Regions from separate parts of the Homo sapiens genome. Here region 1 is linked to region 2. The links come from fine-mapping of genetic effects on gene expression. A gene starts in region 2. The other region holds a variant in brackets. All regions are shown on one strand. Distances are from middle to middle. Region 1 has its middle 12 kb from the start of CDCA5. Region 2 holds the start of TM7SF2 (transmembrane 7 superfamily member 2).

What was found. PIP is the estimated chance that this variant, and not a neighbour inherited with it, causes the effect.
Region 1: its variant is fine-mapped to the expression of TM7SF2 in whole blood (INTERVAL, PIP 0.93).

What each region holds. Positions count from the first base shown.
Region 1 is chr11:65,070,666-65,073,564 of GRCh38, reverse strand. It overlaps a transcript of CDCA5 not described here. Among named protein-coding and RNA genes, the nearest start is that of CDCA5, 12 kb to the left of the region's middle. The variant T/G (reference allele first, on the strand shown) is at 1,340.
Region 2 is chr11:65,110,271-65,113,161 of GRCh38, reverse strand. TM7SF2 (transmembrane 7 superfamily member 2) reads right to left here and starts at 1,290. Exons shown (of 10, transcript NM_003273.6): 1 at 1,095-1,290; 2 at 451-647; 3 at 297-351. The coding sequence starts at 1,146. VPS51 (VPS51 subunit of GARP complex) reads right to left here. Exons shown (of 10, transcript NM_013265.4): 8 at 2,559-2,680; 9 at 2,381-2,468; 10 at 1,300-1,835. The coding sequence ends at 1,575. RefSeq lists silencers at 479-908, 2,174-2,349 and enhancers at 1,039-1,088, 1,159-1,268, 1,191-1,485, 1,182-2,107, 2,108-2,891.

The DNA.
Region 1 (2,899 bases), 40 kb after region 2:
GAGGTCCCTGCCTCTGAACCTTTGCTCTCTGCCTCTCGTGTCTTTCCCCACTCCTGCGTCACCTGGGGAGCCCCGCGTCATTAAGTCTGGCTCACGCGTCACCCCTGCTCAGCCTTTCCTCCCCACCTGCCCCACCCTGGTGAAAGCAAAGAGCACAGGTTCTGCAATCCAACTGGGTTTGAATCCTGGCTCTGCCAGCTTCTAGCTGTGTGATCCCAGGCAAATGATAATAATTAGACTCTGATGTGCCTCAGTTTCCTTAACAGTAAAATGAGGACAATAATAATACCTATGCCACAGTGTTTAAAAATGAGATAGTCGGCCGGGCGCGGTGGCTCACACCTGTAATCCCAGCACTTTGGGAGGCTGAGGTGGTTGGATTACTTGAGGTCAGGAGTTCAAGACCAGCCTGGCCAAGATGGTGAAACCTCGTCTCTACTAAAAATACAAAAATTAGCCGGGCATGGTGGCGGGCACCTGTAATCCCAGCTACTCGGGAGGCTGAGGCAGGAGAATCACTTGAACCCTGGCGGGTGGAGGTTGCAGTGAGCCAAGATCATGCCACTTCACTCCAGCCTGGGTGAAAGAGAGAAACTCCATCTCAAAAAAAAAAAAAAAAAAAAAAAGAATGAAATAATACAAGTAAAGCACTTGGTGCATGGTAAGTGCTCAATGAACAATTTTCAAGTAGAACTGACCATTCCCTCCCTTTTTAAGTCTCAGAAGTCCACACAGACCTCCATCATAGCACCTTCAAGCTCCATTCTGTCTGCTCTGCACACACGTTTACACAGTAGCTGTGTAAACTCCAGCTCAGGCTGGAGGCAAGGTTGTATTTGTCTCTGTCCCCCCAGTGTCCAGGCACATCATGGAGTAAGTGGATGTGGTGGTTTCCCACCAGCCTGGGCAGGTGTGCCCCTCCAGTGGGAGCTGGGGACAGGGGCTTCAGAGAGCCTCTGAGTGCCTGGTAGGAGGGGCACAGGTGGAGTCAGGAGTGATGGCACCTGGCACCCTGCCTCAGTCATGAGCCTCCCACAGCACAAATTCTAGTCCCACCAGTGTGCATGTGAGGTCTGAAGCCAGCCCCATGGCTCACACCTGTCCCCATTTCTTGGAGAGTGGACTTCACCCTCCCTCTCCACAGGGCAGTTCCCCACACAGCCTATGGACCCCTCCCTCCTCGCCTGGGTCCTCAGCCCGGTAGCTCACCACCCTTTCAGATGAGGCTTTGGCTCAGGCCTGGTGGTTCTCCCAACACATGGGCCTAGACCAGGCTGCCTTCCCCTCTCCACAGTGTGGCTGACAGGTTGGCAGGCTCCCTGACAGCCACCTGCTTGGG[T/G]ATCAGTCCACCCACATCTGAGACTCTTCTTGAGCCATGGTTTTCTCTTCTGAAAAGTGAGGCCAATTCCATCTCTCTAACGGAGTTGGTCAGGAGGTTGATGTCATATGCAAAGCAGCCAGCAGAGTTCCTCATCACTGATGGCTAGTAGCATTTTACCCAGCCTGTGATTAACCCCTCAAAGGAGGAGATTCATTTTTGTACCTTCTCAACATTCAGGGAAGGGCCTTCAACAAAGTTAGGGCTCAGTCAATATTTGTGGAGTTGAATACCCATTTCACAGGCTAGGAGGCTGAGCCCGATTTCCTGCAGCTGCCCCACCTATGAGCAGCAGAGCAGGACTGAAATCCAGGTCCTGAGCTATCTTCTGTCCAAGTCTGAATTAAGCATCTGTCTGTGCTTGGCTGGTGGGACCCTGAGAGGACCCCAGTCCTGTCTGTCTGTCTATCTGCTCATCCTCCTCACGTACCAACTGGTAACCGTGGAGCTTTTCATGCCTCCCAGTGTCCTCTGATGGGCACCAACATGTGGCCATAGTGTTAGAGTTGCTAGATTTAGCAAAAAATACAAGATGCCCACTTAAGCCTGAATCTTAGATAAACAACACAATTTTTAAAGAGTAAGAGTGCCCTTGCCTGCAATCCCAGCACTTTGGGAGGCCGAGGCAGGCGGATCACCAGGTTAGGGGTTCGAGACCAGCCTGACCAACATGGTGAAACCCCGTCTCTACTAAAAATACAAAAATTAGCTACTCAGGAGGCTGAGGCAGGAGAATTGCCTGAACATGGAAGGCAGAGGTTGCAGTGATCCGAGATCGCACCACTACACTCCAGCCTGGGCAACAAAGCGAGACTGTCCCCAGGAAAAAAAAAAAAAAGGAATAACTGTTTCCCAAATCAGAGAAATAATAGATAGTTTTCTAGTACAAGTATGTTCCATGCCACATATGGGGTATGCATATGTGGGTTGAAAATCCAAAATCCCGGCCGAGCACGGTGGCTCACACCTATAATCTCAGCACTTTGGGAGGCCAAGGCGGGCAGATCATGAGGTCAGGAGATCGAGACCATCCTGGCTAACACGGTGAAACCCCGTCTCTACTAAAAAATACAAAAAATTAGCCGGGTGTGGTGGCGGGCACCTGTAGTCCCAGCTACTCGGGAGGCTGAGGCAGGAGAATGGCGTGAACCTGGGAGGCAGAGCTTGCAGTGAGCCAAGATTGCACCACTGCACTCCAGCCTGGGCAACAGAGCGAGACTCTGTCTCAAAAAAAAAAAAAAAGAAAAGAAAATCCAAAATCCCAAACTGTGAGCACTGCCCTGACATTCACTGTAGCATTTTGGATTCTGGATTTTCAGATAATGCTAATATTCCAAAATCCTAAGAAATCTGAAATCCAAAACACTTCTAGATAGGCATTTTGGAGAAGAAATTCTCAACCTGCCTGGGTTCAGTGGCTTATGCCTGAAATCCCAGCACTTTGGGAGAGGAGGAGGCAGGAGAATCACTTGAGCCCAGGAGTTCGAGACCAGTCTGGGCAACATGGTGAAACCCTGTCTC
Region 2 (2,891 bases):
AACACACGCAGAGCCCAAAACTCAGGGGGGCCACAGACCCTGCCCCAAGCATTAGGCTGCCACCCTGGCCTTCAGAGGATCACCCCAGCCACTGCTGTGGTGCACGGAGTAGCAGTAAATGGGGTAAGGCTGTGGGGACGAGGGGCATAGGGAGAGCCCCCGGCGTCTGTCCTGGGCGTAACAGAGGCACACAAAGGAGCCTGGGGTGGGGGCCAATCTCCGTGGACCTCCCCGCTAGGCCTGGAGCTCCACCCCCGGCCGCTTAACTCCAGCGCGAGGGCCCGTCCCCTAGGCACCGTTAATAGGATAGCGCAGGCGACTCTTGTCCTTCAATTCCTGCCCCTCGGCCACCTGCGGGTCCAAGGGGGCTCTGATAAGGCCCGGGGCGTCCTTTCCCTCGCCGAGCCCATTCGCTTCCCTCCCCCGAGCGTCCGCGAGCGGGGCCCGCACCTTGCGCGCCGGCAGTAGGTAGAGCGCCGCCTGCAGGCCGAGCCAGGCGAGCCACAGCAGCAGCGCCCGTGGGCTCCACAGCACCTCCAGCCCCGGCAGGGACGCGGGTGGACCCAGCAGGCGCGCGGGGCCCGAACGGGCCGCCAGGAGCAGGTGGAACATGGTGGCGGGCAGCAGCAGTAGCAGAGCCGCGGCGCCTGCGGGAAGGGCCATCACGTCGGGCGTCCGCCCCTAGCCCCCCAGCTCCCCGCCGGCCCGCACGGGCGCCCTGACGTCTCTGCGGGACCCTCTCGGCATTCCCAGAGTGCGCCTCCGCACCCCGTCCTCAGCCCTCGGCCCCCAGGCACCCCGCTGCCTCCCAGTTCCCTTCCCAGGCGTCCATCTTAGTCCCCCGCCCCCAGGCCCCTCGAAGACCCTCCTCCTGCTCCCAGTCGACACCATAAATCCCCGTTCTGCAGCCCCCAGAACCGGCCCCTCCTCAGCTCTCCCTCTCCAGACACCCTTCGCTGCAAACCCCCGGGTCCCTCTGCCTCCGACACCCCCAAAGCCTTCCATCCTCAGATCTCGCCCCCGCTCTTAGTTCACCCGCTCCAGCTCTCCTTCGCTTAGCCTTTGCCCCAGGTCCCATCTCTCTGCCCCATTACCCAGGGGCCCTCCGAATTCCAGCGGGGCCCGGGGGCCCTGAGTGGGGGCCATGGTCTCCGCTCCGCCGGAGAGAGAGGGCGCTCACAATAGTCAGTCAAGGAAACACTGTCCGCCCCATTTCCCAGGAGATGGACTCGGCCGCGCGGAGGATCCGGCCCCGCGGCGCCTGCACCTGCCTGGACACGGAACGCAGACAAGGACCGCTCTCGTCCCAGGGTTTTTAAGTGGAACCGCCCCCTGCCCATGCTGGGCCCAGCACACCAGCCAATCGGCGCTCGGGGGCGGACCCGACGCGGGCGCCTCAGAAGCCTCAGCTTCAAAACCCCGCCCCCGGAAAGGCCCGCCCAGCAAGCGAGAGGAGGAGGCCACACATGTTTATTAGGCCGGTCCTGACACCTGCCTGCGGGGAAGGACCACCGAGACCAGATCCTGGGTGCCATGGGGTGCAGGGACAGACCGGTGCATGGCAGCGGCTGCGCCTAGCCGCGCTCGCAGATGACCTCAACCACACTGGGCTCCATGGGCACAGGGTCTGGGCAGCGCAGGGCAGCAGAGGCCACCACTTCGTCCAGCAGCAAGTGCACGAGTTCTTCGTCGGCCACAAAACGCCACAGGTAGAGCTGCAGAAAGTGGCAGTCCACTTGCACCTGCTGCAGCCCGAAGCGCCCAAAGGTGCGCAGCCGCACACACTCCAGCAGCGTCTTCAGGCTGATCTTGATGATGCCGGTCAGCACCGACACCTGCAGGCAGGGACACAGGGATGCAGCTTGGGGACTGCAGGTGTGTGTGGGGGACACCCAAGTTCCAAGCAGGGGCCCGGGAGACATACGATGGAAGTAGCTGGGATGAGGCAGAAAGTCTCCGGGGCCAGATAAGAAGGGAGGGATACAATATTAGCGCCGTCATCTGGAGGGCAGGGGACAGGTAGGGCCCAGCAATCAGAGGCATCCCTGAGCTTGGAGTGAGGCGGGGCAGGGACCATGGGTGAACAGAAAACCCTGGGGAGGACCCAAGACTACTGTGGGGATAAGGACAAGGGCAAACAGTAATCCCAGGTCAGCACCCAGACTCAGGCTGGGCATACACCAAGACTGGGACAAGGGCTGTGGGATTTGGAGGCAGGGCACTCTGTACTACCTAAAAACAGCCCTAGAGACAGAGACTGGAGGGTCAGGGTCACCCCCAGTTGGTCACAGAGTCCTGGGGCTCCTTGGGCAGGTGTGGGGCTGCTCCAGCCAACCCTCCCCGGGATCCCTGGAAGTCTGAGTCACGTTGGAAGTCGGACCTTGTTGAACTCCACAGGGCTGAACACATCAATACGTTCAGAGAATAGCTTCTGGATATTGCTCAAGAGGTTGGTGTCCATCGGGGCACTGGATTGGGGAAGACAAGGAATCAGAGCCCGCCCTGCACCCTCGCCCTCTTTTGTCCCTTCCCCCTGGGGCTCCCCTGACCAGCCAGACCTGGGGGTATAGCTGGGGGCGTAGCGGCCCTGCTGCCGAGAGCTGCTGTACACGGAGAAAGTCCTCTTGCTGGAGTCGCTGCTCTGGGCCTTGCGAACACCCTCTTCGTACAGGAGCCCCACCTGGTGGTAAAAAGAGGTACTGCAAGGAGGCCCGAGTCAGGGGAAACCACCAGCCCATCGGTGCTGAGGATGCCCTAAGTCAGCTACTCAAGCATCACAAGGATCACAGGGTAATCACCGCGGGGCCCGCTATTTAGTAGGTACATGGTCGCTATTTATAGAACCAGTGGAGTGGGGCAAAGGCAGGATACAAGAGTTGGTCTGAGGTCTA